2 separate regions of the Homo sapiens genome follow, and region 2 is linked to region 1. The links come from fine-mapping of genetic effects on gene expression. A gene starts in region 1. The other region holds a variant in brackets. All regions are shown on one strand. Distances are between the middles of the regions.

Region 1 (9,127 bases):
CAAACTCCAAGCCAGGCACAATAGTTTATACCTATAATCCCAGCACTTTGGGAGGCCAATGCAGGAAGATCACTTGAGCCAGGAGTTTAAGACCAGCCTGGGCAACATAGTGAGACCCTGTCTCCACAAATTTTTTTTTTTTTTTTTGAGACGGAGTCTAGCTCTGTCACCCAGGCTGGAGTGCAATGGCACAATCTCGGCTCACTGCAACCTCTGCCTCCCGGGTTTAAGCGATTCTCCTGCCTGGCCTCCTGAGTAGCTCGGACTGCAGGCACGTGCCACCAAGCCCAGCTAATTTTTGTATTTTTAGTAGAGATGGGGTTTCACTGTATTGGCCAGGCTGGTCTCAAACTCCTGACCTCGTGATCCACTGCCTCGGCCTCCCAAAGTGCTGGGATTACAAGCATGAGCCACCACGCCTGGCCTTTTTTTTTTTTGAGACGGAGTCTCACTCTGTTGCCCTGGCTGGGGTGCAGTGCCGCGATCTCAGCTCACTGCAACCTCCGCCTTCCGGGTTCAAGCAATTCTCCTGCCTCGGCCTCCCAAGTAGCTGGGACTGCAGGCACGTGCCACCACACCCAACTAATTTTTGTATTTTTAGTAGAGACGGGGTTTCGCCATGGTGGCCAGACTGGTCTCGAACTCCTGACCTCAGGTGATCCACCCACCTCGGCCTCCCAAAGTGCTAGGATTACAGGTGTGAGCCACTGCACCCGGTCGCTACAGATTTTTTTTTTTTTTAGATGGAGTCTCGCTCTGTCGCTCAGGCTGGAGTGCAGTGGCGTGATCTCAGCTCACTGCAAGCTCCGTCTCCTGGGTTCATGCCATTCTCCTGCCTCAGCCTCCCGAGTAGCTGGGACTACAGGCGCCTGCCACCACGCCCGGCTAATTTTTTGTATTTTTAGTAGACACAGGGTTTCACCGTGTTAGCCAGGATGGTCTCAATCTCCTGACCTCGTGATCCGCCCGCCTCGGCCTCCCAAAGTGCTAGGATTACAGTCGTGAGCCACCGTGCCCGGCCCAAATTTTTTTTTTAATTATCTGGGCACAGTGGTACATGCCTGTAATCTCAGTTATTCAAGAAACGGAGGTGGGAAGATCATTTGAGCCCAGGAGTTTTAGGCTACAGTGAGCTATGATCATGCCACTGCACTCCAGCCTGGGTAACAGAATGAGACATTGAATCTAAAGTAATAAATAAATAACTTTTTTAAATGAGAAAAGGAAGACTCTAGCTCAGACTGCCAAATACATTCACTCCTTCATTCAATAAATATTTATTGAGCACCTACTGAAAGTGCTGGGAACATAGAAGAGCACAAATAAGGTTCCTGCCCTTACAGAGCTTACAAAAATATATATAAAATTGAACCAAAAGTTTACCAGTTCCCAGAGAGGATAACTTGTCCTCCATTGTTTTCATGGTAGAATTTAATTCAGCTTCCATCTCCTTTTCAAATTCATCTTCACTAGATGATTCACTTTCTCCGGTAAGACATTCTCTGATGAGTTTTCGTTTTTGGTCAGGAGTTCCATGTAAAAGCACATCCACTTCATCCTCAGAGCTAGCATACATTTAAATCAAAAAGAATATGAATATTTAAAAATTAAAATAATTTTAAACTCCCAGCATCTCACTGTCCAACAACAATTTTAAGTATTACATGGTTACATTTGATGTACTTATACATTACATATAGCTATTCTCACTTAATAAGCCAGTTCTGCATATTTCCAATCTTCTTTAATTTTTTTTTTTTTTTTTTTTTTTTGAGATGGCATCTCAGTCTGTGACCCAACCTGGAGTGCAGTGGCATGATCTCAGCTCACTGCAACCTCCACCTCCCCAGTTCAAGCAATCCTCCCACCTCGGGTTCCCCAGTAGCTGGAACTACAGGCACATACCACCATTCCCAGCTGTTTTTTTGTTTTGTTTTGTTTTGTTTAATTTTTGTCGAAATGGGGTTTCGCCATGTTGCCCAGGATGGTTTTTTTGTTTGTTTGTTTGTTTGTTTCTTTTGAAACAGAGTCTCGCTCTTGTCGCCCAGGCTGTAGTACAGTGGCATGATTTCTGCTCACCGCAACCTCCACCTCCTGGGCTCAAGCGATTCTCCTGCCTCAGTCTCCCAAGTAGCTGGGATTACAGGATTCAGAATCCGTCTCAAAAAATACATAGATAGATATATAGATAGATAGATATCCTGGTTGTGATACTGCACTATAGTTTTGTAGTATGTTAACACTGGAGGAAACTGGGGAAAGAGTACACAGGATCTCTCTGTATTATTTCTTTTTTTTTTATTATTTTTTATTTTTTGAGATGGGGGTCTCCCTGTGTTGCCCAGGCTGGAGTGCAATGGTGCCATCTTGGCTCACTGAAACTTCCGCCTCCCAGGCTCAAGCCAACCAACCGCCTCACCCTCCTGAGTAGCTGGGACCACAGATATGCACCACCATACCAGCTAATTTTTTGTATTTTCAGTAAAGACATGATTTCATCATGTTGCTCAGGCTGGTCTTGAACTCTTGAGCTCAAGTGATTCTCCTGCCTTGGCCTTCCAAAGTGCTGGGATTACAGATGTGAGCCACTGCACCAGACCTGTATTATTTCTTATAACTGAATGTGAATCTACGAAAACTTCAAAATAAAATGTTTAATTTTTAAAAACTGAATCACAAAGTGAGAGCTATTTTTTCTACAAATTTTCTTCAATCCTTGTCATTATCTCAACCAAAGTCTCAGTTTTCAGCACTGCTGAGAAAGGCAGTCATACATCATGGACCCTAGATATGCAAGTTAAGTATGCCAAGAATGCAAGGTTCTGACCACTGTTCACTCCAGCCATTTCTCAGGATTGTGTTTGCAGCGAACAACAACCTTGAGGAATGAGATAATGTCTCCTTCCAGGACAAAGAGCAGATGTATTTACTGTCTTCTATGAAAGAGGTGGATTCTCCAAGCTCAAGTAGTCTTTAGCCACGATGCCAACCCACTGAATGTGCAGCATTCTTCTAGGACCCTCAGCGTAATACCTGTAGGGTTGACAAGCAAGAGCAAGCCACACAAACATGATGCTCATGCTGCTTGCTGTGCTATGTGTAGTCTTATCTTTGACCCAGGAGTCTCATGTCTTCGGTCAGCTACCGTGAAACAGTTAACAGGCTACAATGTATTAGTTTATAAACAGTGTAAAATTAAATACTGACAGACACCTCTCTAACACTAATCTCCCTTTTTAAAATAATAACCATTTGGCTCAGAGCCTACAACAGGCAATACTGTCTGATAACATTGTTTTGTTTTTATAATATTTATCTTTACAGTTACCTTACCAGTGGCAACTGTCACAGAATTATAAAGCTTCCTTAAAAAAATGATACAACAGTCCTGGCTCCGTGGCTCAGGCCTGTAATCCTAGCACTTTGGGAGCCCGACGCAGGCAGATTGCCTAAGGTCAGGAGTTCAAGACCAGCCTGGCCAACGTGGTGAAAACCCATCTCTACGAAAAATACAAAAAATAAGCCAGGTGTGGTAGCGCATGCCTGTAATCCCAGCTACCCAGGAGGCTGAGGCAGGAGAATTGCTGGAACCCAGGAGGTGGAGGCTACAGTGAGCCAAGATTGCACCAGTGCACTCCAGCCTGGCTGACAGAGTGAGACTCTGTCTCAAAATAAATAAATAAATAAATAAATAATTGAGACATACATATATACATACCTCCTTTCACAGACAGGACCCATTAACTGAAACTCTTTTTCACAGGGAATCCTGGTATCTATCCTCACTCCCAACAAAAGAAATCTTAACAGCAGTCTGATTTCCCATGCATCCAATGTCTCCCCATGACAATATGAGGAAACATTGTTCTTTTGATTTTTTTTTTTTTTAAGAAATGAGGTCTCACTATGTTGCCCAGGCTGTTCCTTTACTACCAGGCTTAAGAGATTCTCTCGCCTCAGACTCCCAAAGTCCTGGGATTACAGGCATGGGCCACCACACCCAGCCAAAGTTGTTAATGAAAGCATGGCTTTACAGAAAGCTTCTTTAGGCAGAATGAATGTTTTAAAGTTTAAGAATAGGATCTGCTGACAGCTTAAGAAATAACTAAATTTGTGTGGAAATATCTCGGCAAAACAGCTTCAAGTTTCCCTGGTAGAATAAAGCCCACCCTTCTGGAAATCCCACGAACCTTCTTCTGTGCCTATCTCAGGTCAATATTCTCTACAATGCTCTGCCAAGAAATATATACTTTATCTTATTACCCTTATTATACTATAAGCCTCTGGAAGACAAGGACCTTATGATTTATCTCTGTAGCTCAGAGCGAGCATACAACAGTCCCTGTCAAAAAATAAAAATAAAAAAGGCTGTTCAATATTCCCTTATTTCTGTTTATGGCAGTTTAGTCTTCAAGATGGACACTTCACATTAAGTCCTGTGAGCCTCACAACAAACATAGTGTGTTATACTATGTTATATAGGTTATACAATTATGTTATTATAGTTCAATTTTACAGGTGAGTAATCGAGGATAACTGACTTGCCTTCCGTCACTCTGCTACTAAGGTGTAGAGACAGGTTTCGATCTCATTGCTTTTGAAGATTTACACGCGGTCCCCCGTGATTCCGGAATATCCCTCTTCCTACAGGCGACATCGGCACCGCCTCCCCCCGGGACTGCGCGACCCCATCAGGAAAGCCCTTTGGCTTCGCACAAGTAACAGGCACGACAGGCTCCCGAGCCGCTAGGGTCTGCGTAGGCTCGGCAGGCGCAACGAATGGAGGCGACCAAAGCCAGGCCTCGACCCAAATCCTCGGGGGCCAGGGTGGGGCGGGAGCCCACCTGCTCAAAGCCGGCTCCTCGTCGCTAGGCTCTTCAACCGCGTAGGGGTCGTAGTCATCCGGAAGCCGGTTCATGGTGGCCTGCAGCGGCCTACACCGTCCACAAGCAATTTGCAGCGTCTCTGTTTACACTGCAAGTCCAGTCCCTAAAGCGCCCCTGACGCCACTTCCGCCTGAACGTCCCAGTCCCCCTTGCGCGCCCGCGCAGACCGACAGCACCGAGGGAGGCAGGTAGAAGGCGGGGAAGGGGCGGAGCAGGAGCGAAAAGGGGCGGGGACGGGACGGGGGCGGGTCTTAATCCCACCATTTTTGTTTTGTTTTGTTTTTTGGAGACGGAGTTTCGCTCTTGTTGCCCAGGCTGGAGTGCAATGGCGCGATCTCGGCTCACCGCAACCTCCGCCTCCCAGGTTCAAGCAATTCTCCTACCGCAGCCTCCCGAGTAGCTGGGATTACAGGCATACACCACCACGCCCGGCTAATTTTGTATTTTTAGTAGAGACGGGGGTTTCTCCATGTTGAGGCTGGTCTCGAACTCCGGACCTCAGGTGATCCGCCCACCTCGACCTTCCAAAATGCTGGGATTACAGGCGTGAGCCACCGCTCCCGGCCAATCCCACCATTTTCTTCCGCAGCTTCTGCTTACAGGAAAATAGCAGCTACCTTGTCACCAAAAATAATAATGATGGGCACCCTCATAAGTGACAGTCTCTGAGGTGAACATGCTACATGCAGCGTCTCATCACCTACGAAGCAGGAATCTAGACGCTGAGGGACACACAGCCCGAAATCCAATAAGTCCTCAGACACCAGCACCCACATCCCTCCAACCTCGCCTCTAACCCTTATGCCTTCCACACCATGAGGCTCTCAACCTCTCCTTCACACTGTTCACTCCTCAGTCTGACTGCGGCCTCAACAATCTACGAAAAGTTATCTTTTCTCGTCATCTTCCCAGTCCCCACTTTTGCTCAGCCCTCAACTGATCCCACTCGATACCTGAGGAGAACAGGCAGATGACAGCCACTTGAGCTCCATCGGGAGACTGTTTCTAACCCTGTTTCTGAACCAGGAACTCGGGTTCCTGCCTCCTACCGAGACACTGTGGCACTCTCTAAAATGTGGAGTAGCTGTAATAAATCTACTCCTGTATTATGCTTTACAGTGCAGGTCTTAGTTTTTCTTTTTTCTCATTTCTTTTGAAATGGCATCTCGAACAAAGTCCACCAATCCCTTTACAAAAGAATGAACTGCTCCTCTGTGTGTACTTCATAGAAGGTGGAATCGGACAGAAGCAGGTTAGTGACAGTTATTCCTGAAATACAGGAGCAGAGTACAGTCTGTTGTGGTTTCCCGGATTCCGCGCCTAGCTCAGCCAATTAAGCATGAGACATAGGCCATTGAGCCACTTAGTAGTTATGCGAGTGGATAGATTGGTATGTAGAGGGAAAGAGGTCTGCTGTAAAGAACAACACTTGTTTGTCTGTGGGGAAAGAAAAGCAGAATACTTGAGATGAAAGTTGGCATACAAATAGGATACTATCGCCAGTAGTTATATTACAAACATTATCGGCCTTTCTAGTGTGAATGAACATTAGACACATTATTGTCATTCCTAGTTTAAAGTTAAGGTTGCGTGGTTGGATTTTTCCACTATCTTTTTCTAATTTTTCTACCATTTGGAGACCGTAGGCATTTGGGCCTGTCACCCCTTGGATGGGTTCCTAGTTTGTTTACATTTTCCTGAACCCTCCTGAGCGCCCGTTCTTGGTCTAATCCCCAGTCGTGATGATTCCACACTTCCTCAGCCGCATGTTGTCTTGCCTCATTCATGAGCTGGTCAGCGTTTCGTCTCTTTAACTGACATGTTCCCCAGTGCTGTTTGAACTGTTGAGTTTCCGTTGCTGGCTGAGTGCGTTTTGTCCTTCACGTAACCTTCGCTGGTAAAAATAAGCCCATGTGATGTCCACCAGTGGATGAATGCTGGACCGAGAGCCCTAGCTTCTGGATCCAGGTCTAGGCCCTTCATCTGCTGCTCTGTGGCCCAGGGCAGGTTTGCTTGACCTCTGCCTCAGTTCTCGACTCTAAAGGACATACTGACCTACCTCACAGGGGTGTTGTGAGGATTAATAAATGTTGGTACTCTGCTTTGGAAATGTGAAAATGCTGTGTAAATGTTAAGAAATACTAAGTATAGGGCCAGAAGCTATACAGTGTTTCACTTAACCGTTTGCCATTCTGTATTTACCAAGGTGGTCTTTTCTGGGGAAGGAAGTAGAGTGGAAGGTGCATCCCTTGGCCCCTGGTTTACATTATTAGGGTGCTTATTGTAGGAATGCACTCTAAAAAGTGGGCGTAGAATGAAAGCAGCCGTCCAGTGGTCCTCCCTTTTCTGTAGTTTCACTTTTCTTGCTTCAAGTTACAGCAGTCACCTGAAATCTGAAAATACTAAATGAAAAACTCCAGAAACAATTTATGTCTTAAATGTTGTGCTGTTCTGAGTAGCGTGATGAAATCTGTTGCCGTCCTACCTGGAACATTGAGTCATGCCTCTGTCCAGTGTGTCCATGCTGTATACACTGTCCACCCATCAACCAACCACTAAGTAGCTGTCTTGGTTGTCAACATAACAGATCACAAGAAGATTGAGGTTGGGTGTGGTGGCTTACCCCTGTAATCCCAGCACTGTGGGGGTCCAAAGTGGGAAGATTGCTTGAGCCCAGGAGTTCAAGACCAGCCTGGGCAACTAAGCGAGATCCTATCTCTCGAAAAAATTTTAAAACAACTTTTTGGCTGGGCGTGGTGGCTCACGCCTGTGATCCCAGCACCTTGGGAGGCCAAGGCGGGCGGATCACGAGGTCAGGAGATCAAGACCGTCCTGGCTAACACGGTGAAACCCCGTCTCTACTAAAAATACAAAAAATTAGCCAGGCGCAGTGGCGGGCACCTGTAGTCCCAGCTACTCGGGAGGCTGAGGCAGGAGGATGGCGTGAACCCGGGAGGTGGAGCTTGCAGTGAGCTGAGATTGCGCCACTGCACTCCAACCTGGACGACAGAGCGAGACTCCGGCTCAAAAAAAAAAAAAGAATTAGCTGGGCGTGGTGGCGGGTGCGTGTAATCCCAGCTACTCGGGAGGCTGAGGCAGGAGAATCACTTGAACCTGGGAGGCAGAGGCTGTAGTGAGCCAAGATCGCGCCATTGCATTCCAGGCTGGGCAACAAGAGCGAAACTCTGTCTCTAAATAAATAAAATAAAATAAAATAAAATAAAATAAAATAAAATAAAAAATGGCATGTAATATAAAAATGAGGGGAGAACCCTTTTAGGCAGGATTTAACTTTGGCTACAGGTAACTAAAACAATGAGCAGCTTAGACAGGACTTATTTTTCTCACCTACCCAGAATTTAAGGGGTAGCAGTTTGGGGCTGTTGGCCAGGCTATTCACCAGGCGGCCCCTCCTCCGTCTGCTCTACCATGCCAGGTGTAAGGTCTCCCGGCCATGATTGTTGCTTCCAGGTACCAAGGCGGCCGCTACACTCCAGGCCTGAGTCTGACTTCCAGGTAGAAAAAGGGGGTAGGGACAAAGACTTTCTTCAAAAAGTGGCTTGGCCTTTTTATTCTCCTGGAGATGCCCTTTCCGGGGACGTGTGTCTAACTGGCCAGAACTGTGTTGTGTGATGAGGAAGTTGAGCTGTTTTAGCTGGGTGTGTTGATCCTGTGGACAAAATCAGGGTCTGTTAGTAAGACAGGAGTGGCCACTGCAGGATACCCTGCCAACAGCACAGAACGAGTCTGGACCTGAGAAACAGTAAAACTGACCTGTGATTAGAGGTTTCGTTTGTTGTTGTTGTTGTTTGTTTTTTATGTGTTTTTTTTGGTTCTTGTTTTGTTTTTTGTTTTTTGTGACGGAGTCTCACTCTGTCGTCCAGGCTGGAGTGCAATGTCGCGATCTCGGCTCATTACAACCTCCGCCTCCTGGGTTCAAGTTTTTCTCCCGCCTCAGCCTCCGGAGTAGCTGGGATTACAGGAACCCGCCATCATGCCCAGCTAATTTTTGTATTTTTTAGTAGAGACGGGGTTTCACCATGTTGGCCAGGCTGGTCTTGAGCTCCTGACCTCAGGTTATCCGCCCGCCTTGGCCTCCCAAAGTGCTGGGATTACAGGCGTCAGCCACCGCGCCCGGCCCAGAATTTTTTTTTTTTTAATTATTTTACATGAGAGGCCGGGTGCGGTGGCTCACACCTGTAATCCCAGCACTTTGGGAGGCCGAGGAGGGCAAATCACGA
Region 2 (8,000 bases), 80 kb after region 1:
TCAGCCTCCTAAGCAATTGGGACCACAGGTGTACACCACCACATCTGGCTAATTATTATTATTTTTTAAGAGATAGGGTCTCCCTATGTTGCTCAGGCTGTTCTCGACCTCCTGGGCTTAAGTGATTCTCCCACCTCGGCCTCCCAAAGTGCTGGGATTATAGGCGTAAGCCACCGCACCTGGCTAAATTCTCTCTTGTATACCTTATTAAAGCATGTTATCCATTTATATATTGCCTTAAGAGCTATTAACTCAATCTACCATTTGTCTTCTCCTTTTCTTTTTTTTTCCCCTTGAGACAGAGTCTCGCTGTGTTGCCCAGGCTGGAGTGCAGCGGTGCAATCATTGCTCACTCTACTGTCAAACTCCTGGCTTAAGCAATCCCCTCCGTCCTCGGCCTCCCAAAGTGTTAGGATTACAGGCGTGAGCCTGTAATAGGACTTATGACTGGCCTAAGTCCTATTTCTAATAAACAAGATGTATAATGGAAAAGCCAGTCCCCAAAATAAAATCACCCCCCACCATCAGTATAAAATATCACTGAAAAGTTAACATGCTATCATGGTTCATCAATTCTAGATGCATATTTTTTATAACATATCTGAAATAGGAATGTCCTTTTTTATTTTTATTTTTTTGAGGCAGAGTCCCGCCCTGTCACCAGGCTGGAGTGCAGTGGCGTGATCTTGGCTCACTGCAATCTCCACCTCCAGGGTTCAAGTGATTCTCTTGCCTCAGCCTCCTGAGTAGCTGGGATTACAGGCATGTGCCACCACACCCAGCTAATTTTTGTATTTTTAGTAGAGAGGGGGTTTCACAATGTTGGCCAGGATGGTCTTGATCCCCTGACCTCATGATCCACCTGCTTCAGCCTCCCAAAGTGCTGGGATTACAGGTGTGAGCCACCATGCCCAGCCAGGAATGTCTTTCAATTGATGACAAATTACAATTTAACTAGCAACATTTTTTTTTCCTTAGTGGTACATAAAAGTCTTTCAATCAACTGCACCTTAAATCTGATAAAATATATTGTAGATTTTTTAATTTTAAAGAGACAGAGTCTTGCACTGCTACCCAGGTTGGAATGCGGTGGCACAATCATAGCTCATTTTAACCTTGAACTCCTGGGATCAAGCGATCATTCCATCTCAGCCTTCCAGGTAGCTGGGACTACAGGCACACATCACCATGCCCAGCTAATTTTTGAGATGGGATCTCACCATGTTGCCCAGGCTGGTCTTGAGCTCGTGGGTTCAAGTGATCCACCTCCTGACCCCGTTTGGCTTCCCGAACCACTGGTATTACAGGTGTGAGATTTAGTGTTCATTACATAAAATGTACACAAATTGTCCAGGCAGATTTTCTTCTCAGTTTAGCAAAAAGTCAATCATTTTAGAGGGTTTTATTAAGGACCGGAGTCAAGCAAACAACTTGTGTTTCATAAAAATTTAATCGGCTGGGTGTGGTGGCTCATGCCTGGCATCCCAGCACTTTGGGAGGCCGAAGAGGGAGGATCACAAAGTCAGGAATTTGAGACCAGCCTGGCCAACATGGTGAAACCTTGTTTCTACTAAAAATATAAAAAAGAAAAAAAAAATTAGCTGGGCGTGGTGTGGGCGCCTGTAATCCCAGCTACTCAGGAGGCTGAGGCAGGAGAATTGCTTGAATCCAGGAGGCGGAGGCTGCAGTGAGCCGAGATCGCACCACTGCACTCCAGCCTGGTCAAGAGAGCAAGACTGTCTCGGGTTAAAAAAATTTAATCAACTTTCTGTAACTAGTGAGTTCAGTTTGAAGAAATTTCTAATTAGATTACATTCAATGGCTTAATCTTTTTCTGGAACAATACACATTGATTGGACTGTCTTTTGTCAGAGGCTAGGTTAAACATGTGTGTCGCTGGTCAAGAGAAAGATTATGACAAAAAAATATGGATTAAGTAACATAAATGTACTATCATTAGAAGAACAATTTAAAGACTCTGACCTGTGACCTGTTGTTCCACATATAATTACTTAGTAAAAGGCTGGGCACAGTAGCTTATGCCTATAATACCAGTACGTTGGGAGGCCAAGGCAGAAGGATCACTTGTGGTCAGGAGTTCGAGACCAGCATGGGTAACATAGTGAGATCGTGTCTCCACAAAAAATTTAAAAATTAGCTGGGTGTAATGGTGCACATCTGTGGTCCCAGCTACTCAGGGGACTGAGGCTGCCGTGGGCTGTGATTGTGCCACTGCATTCCAGCCTGGGTGACAGAGTGAGACCCTGTCTCAAAAAAAAAAAAAAAAAAAAAAAAAAGACTTGGACCAGGCGCGGTGGCTCACGCCTGTAATCCCAGCACTTTGGGAGGCTGAGGCAGGCGGATCACGAGGTCAGGGGATCAAGACCATCCTGGCTAACACGGTGAAACCCCGTCTCTACTAAAAATACAAAAAATAAGCCGGGCGTGGTGGCGGGCACCTGTAGTCCCAGCTACTTGGGAGGCTGAGGCAGCAGAATCACTTGAACCCAGGAGGCAGAGCTTGCAGTGAGCCAAGATTGCACCACTGCACTCCAGCCTGGGGGACAGAGCAAGACTGCCTCCAAAAAAAAAAAAAAGACTTAGGAAGACATTCACTACTAGTTACTATACTGACTAGTGTACTATGAAGTATCTAGCTTAGAACATCCCTAAGACGTCAGTTGTTCATATTTTGACAGCAAAGCAAATGTAGAGAGATGGATGAGTGGATGGGATGGGGCAAAGAGGAAGGAAGAAAGAAAATAACTTTGACTCTTACAATAGTCTCCCAACTGATCTCTTACTTCAGCCCTTGCCCCTCATAAATTTATTCCCTACAGGGCCACTACTATGATATCATTAAACTAGAAATCATTTCTCTGCTTAAAATCTAAGGAGTTTCCACTTGAAGAAAAGCTGAATACCTTACAGTGGCCTACCAGGCACTATAAAATCTCCATCTGATATCATCTAATTTACCACTCCTCTGGCTCACTATAGTCCTGCCATGTGGCCTCCTTTTTGGGG[A/AG]GGGGGGGATGGAGTCTTGCTCTGTCGCCAAGGCTGGAGTACAGTGGTGTGATCTCAGCTCACTGCAACCTCTGCCTTTCTGATTCAAGCAATTCTCCTGCCTCAGCCTCCCTAGTAGCTGGAATTACAGACGTGCGACACCATGCCCAGCTAATTTTTGTATTTTTAGTAGAGACAAGGTTTCACCATCTTGGCCAGGCTGGTCTCGAACTCCCAACCTCAGGTGATCCACCCACCTTGGCCTCTCAAGTGCTGGGATTACAGGCATGAGCCACTGCACCTGGCCCTCGTTTTTTGAACACACAAACATGCTGCCGTCTCAGGGAGTCTTTGCAACCGCTGGTTCCCTCTGCCTGGAACACTCTGCCCCCAGATACGTATCTGCACAGCTCACTTCCTTCAAGTCCTTAAGTCTTCCTCAGGAAGGCCTTTCCTAGCCACCCTATCTAAAAGTGCAGCTCAAACCATCCTCCCCTCCCAGCCCAAAAATCCCTACTCCTCCCTCATTTTTCTTCATAATGCCTATTCAAAACCTAATATACTTTACTTTTTAAAAATGTCTCTTCATGACTGTAATTCAGCTCCATGAAGACATGGGTTTTTGTCTGTTTTATTCATTGCTACATTCCCAATGGAAGTTCTCGACAAATATTTGTGGAATGTAAAGGAGGGAAGAGGAAAGAAAGAAAGGTGGTAACCACAACTGGGCTACAAAACTATTTTCAGGTAATTACAGTATGATCAATTAAAAACCCCATGATAGAAGTAAAATTTGATTGGCCAGGCGCAGTGGCTTATGCCTGTAATCCCAACACTTTGGGAGGCCAAGGTGGGCAGATCACAAGGTCAGGAGTCTGAGACCAGCCTGGCCAACATGGTGAAACCCCATCTCTACTAAAAATACAAAAATTAGCTGGGTGCAGTGGTGCATGCCTGTAGTCCCTGCTACTTGGGAGGCTGAGGCAGAAGGATCACTTGAACCCAGGAGGTGGAGGTTGCAGTGAGCTGATATCGCACCACTGCACTCCAGCCTCGGTAACAGAACACAACTCTGTCTCAAAAAAATATATATATATATATTTAGAGAGAGAGAGAGAGAGAGAGATAGAATAAATATAAACACTAGGCAATACAGTAATATGCGGCTATTTAATAAACTTTTTTTTCAGCACTTATACGCAAACACTGTCCCAGGTATTGTGAAAGATTTAAAGTGAACAAAAAGCCCTGCCTTCAAGAAATCTGTTTGCAATGAGGAAGACAATCAATCTTATGTAATATAAAATTAACTGCTTCCTGCTTTCTCCCCACCACTTTTACCACATGTACAATGTAACCTCATCAACACCTCCAGTCCTGTGACCTTTCCATTTATTTCCAGTCTGTCGGCACTCCCTCTGCTTCACTCCATGAATGCCATTCCAATACCTTTCCTGCTGGTCCCTTCAACTCTCACTGCTCTTTTACCATACCTGGCTCACAAATTCCCATACTCAGGATCTACTTATCTTTTATTTATTTATTTTTTTATAGAGATGAGGTCTCACTATGCTGCCCAAGCTAGACTTGAACTCCTGGGCTCAAGCGATCCTCCCACCTTAGCCTCTCAAATGCTGGGATTACAGGCATGAGCCACCTGACCTCAAGATCAATATAATCGTCAACTTTTACATTTGGGCTGCTGAGTATGGCTAGAGAAAAGTCACCATTGTTTGTACTGTTCCATTTCAAATTAATGGTCTCCAAATTGCATATGCTCTTTGAAAACCACTCAGCAGTCCAGTCCTGTGCAACTCTGCTCAGCTCCTCTTTTGATTCCCTGCAGCAACAATTCCAACTTTTACTACCACATTACACCCCACCCTCAACAAGTGAACTTGCCTCCTCCAGCCCAGAGAAATAAATGCCAGCAGCTGTTTATTCTCTCAGGCCCACCAACACATCTTTTTACAAATAAATTTTGCCTCACAGCTGGTCATGGTGGCACACGCCTGTAGTCCCAGCTACTTGGGAAGCTGAGGTGGGAGGATCACTTGAGCCCCAGGAGGTCGAGGCTGCAGTGAGCTGTGATGGTGCCACTACATGCCAGCCTGGGCAACAGAGCAAGACTATGTCAAAAAACAAAAACAAAAACAAAATTCTTTACATGAGTACCTAATTTCCAAACCAATGATATTTTTCAGTCTTCTTGGCCTCTATGCAGTATTCTGCCTTGGTATCATTCTGACCACTCCTTTCTTAAAACTATCTCAACCTTTAAAACAAAAAAATCATTATTTTTAAAACTGGACATGGGGCCGGGCATGGTGGCTCACGCCTGTAATCTCAGCACTTTGGGAGGCTGAGGCAGGAGGATCACTTGAGGCCAGGAGTTTGAGACCAGCCTGGGCAACATAGCGAAACCCTGTGTCTACTAAAAATACAAAAATTAGTTGGGCGTGGTGGTGCATGCCTGTAATCCCAGCTACTCAGGAAGCTGAGACACAAGAAACTGCTTAAATCCGGGAGGGAGAAGTTGCAGTGAATTGAGATGGTGCCACTGCACTCCAACCTGGGTGATAAAGTGAGACTCCCTCAAAAAAAAAATAAAAAATAAAAAATGGTGACGGGCGTCTCACTCTGTCACCCAGGCTGGAATGCAGTGGTACAATCATAGCTCATTACAGCCTCAAACTCCTGTGATCAAGCAATCTTCCTGCCTCAGCCTCCCAAGTAGCTAGGACTAAATGCATGTGTGACCACACCCTGTTAATTTTTAGTTTTTGTAGAGAGAGGATCTCTCTACAGACCCCAGACTGGTCTCAAACTCCTGGGCTCAAGTGATCCTCTTGCCTCAGCCTCTCAGAGTGCTAGGATTATAGACATGAGCCACTGCGTCAGCTTCTCTCAACTTCTGAAGCCTCCTCTGATTCGCCTCCTACCCCTCTCAGCCCCATTAACCAATCATCTTTGCTCTGGTCCTTAAATGCTGGTTTCCCTTGGGTGCTAGCTAATATTGGAAATATCAGCCATTCTCAACTAATAATTCCTAATTATATCCCCAATTTAGACTTTTTATTCTAAGTTCCCAATTTGAATTTCAAGTTACCAACTAGACATAGCCACCTGGATGTATTCACTTATTAAACAACTGAGTGCCCTCAATGTATCAAGCACTGTCCTACATGTTAGGGAGACAGCAGTGAAGAGACACAATCCTCAGCCTTACAGATCTTACATTCTAGTTTGGTGGGGGCAGGTTAGATGCCTCACAGGCACTTTAAATCCAACATACGTGGAACCAGACTTATGACCTAACCTCTAACCCTGTTCTTCCTTCCTACATTCTATGTTTTCTCCTTCTCCCTTGCCCAGCCCATGTATTACTTATTCAGTCACTATGTCCTGTCTATTCTATCTCCTAAACATCTCTTTACTACATCCCTTCCTTCATCCCTCTTCCACTGCCTTAGTTCTACCTTTGTCATTTCTCATCTGGACTGCTGCATTAGCCTGTTAACTGGTTTCTTTGTTTTCTGAAAGGAAGCATCAATCTATCCTCAATATTAGAATAATCTACAATGTTTTTTCACCTGGGCATGTCTTTCCTTTTTTTTTTTTTTTTTTTTTTTTGAGATGGAGTTTCACTCTTGTCGCCCAGGCTGGAGTGCAGTGGCGTGATCTTGGCTCACTGCTACCTCTGCCTCCTGGGTTCAAGCGATTCTCCTGCCTCAGTTTCCCTAGTAGCTGGGATTACAGGCACCTACCGTCACACCTGGCTAATTTTTTTTGTATTTTTAGTACAGTTGGGGTTTCGTCACGTTGGCCAGGCTGGTGTTGAACTCCTTACCTCAGGTGATCCGCCCACCTCGGCCTCCCATAGTGCTGGGATTATAGGCATGAGCCACTGCACCCGGCCTGGGCATGTCTTTCCTAGCTTAAAATTCCTCAGTACTGGCCGGGCACGGTGGCTCATGCATGTAATCCCAGCACTTTGGGAGGCCGAGGTGGGTGGATCACGAGGTCAGGAGATCGAGACCTTCCTGGCTAACACCGTGAAACCCCATCTCTACTAAAAATACAAAAAGAAATTAGCTGGGCGTGGTGGCGGGCACCTGTAGTCCCAGCTACTCGGGACGCTGAGGCAGGAGAATGGCGTGAATCCGGGAGGCGGAGCTTGCAGTGAGCCGAGATCGTGCCACTGCACTCCAGCCTGGGCAATAGAGCAAAAAAAAAAAAAAAAAAAAGATTCCTCAGTACTTCCCACTGCCTGGAGTCTTTCACTATGCACTACATACTCTGTACTAGCTGCATGTACCTTTGCAACCTCTGCTCCAGTAAGAACAAGTGCTCTAGGAGGAACCAAATTACCAACACATGCCATCCTCCCTGTTGGAAAGCAGACCAATAGCACAGTGGTTAAGAGCCAGGCCCTAGAGCTAGATTGCCTATTTGACCACAGCTCCTACCGGCTGTATGACCTTGGGCAAGTTATTTAATGTCTCTGCAACTCAGTTTTCCTTTCCCAAATAGGAATAACAGTAGGTGTATTTCATAGGGATTTGAGAATTGAGTTTATATGGAAAGTCCCTGACATGCAGTGAATGCATGTAAGTGTGTAACTATCATTATGTCTTTACTACTACCCCTTCCCCTAAAGTTGAACACTTTTACTTTGTACTCCCATACACTTCATTGCAAGGGATTATAACTCTATCTCCTTCACTACACTGTGATGGTCTCAGGGCAGGAACTTTGTCTTATTGATCTTTTTAATCCTCAGCCAACATAATATATGTCACATTTTTATGTGAAGTAACTATCAATAAATGTGGCATGTGTTTAAGCTAAAAAGTGTGCAGGTGCAAAACAAAATGCAAGCATCTGGGCCAAATTCAAGTTGAATTTGAAGCGAAAGAAAAGGTGAGGGGGAAAAAAAACACTGAAATGCATGCATAAAACAGACAGTCAAGTGTAGACGTACTTGGGCAATG

Evidence for each region. PIP is the estimated chance that this variant, and not a neighbour inherited with it, causes the effect.
Region 2: its variant is fine-mapped to the expression of EAPP in whole blood (INTERVAL, PIP above 0.99).

The regions. Positions count from the first base shown.
Region 1 is chr14:34,534,711-34,543,837 of GRCh38, forward strand. EAPP (E2F associated phosphoprotein) reads right to left here and starts at 4,991. Exons shown (of 6, transcript NM_018453.4): 1 at 4,845-4,991; 2 at 1,384-1,565. The coding sequence starts at 4,918. LOC105370447 (a long non-coding RNA gene) reads left to right here and starts at 5,039. Exons shown (of 2, transcript XR_943739.1): 1 at 5,039-5,074; 2 at 5,476-6,996. It overlaps LOC112268123 (a long non-coding RNA gene), which reads right to left and starts at 8,744. Exons shown (of 2, transcript XR_002957583.1): 1 at 8,239-8,744; 2 at 6,524-7,279. RefSeq lists silencers at 2,833-3,127, 5,069-5,168 and enhancers at 4,194-5,118, 4,769-4,928.
Region 2 is chr14:34,615,337-34,623,336 of GRCh38, forward strand. The region is part of intron 2 of SNX6 (sorting nexin 6); the gene reads right to left. Among named protein-coding and RNA genes, the nearest start is that of SNX6, 11 kb to the right of the region's middle. The variant A/AG (reference allele first, on the strand shown) is at 3,028.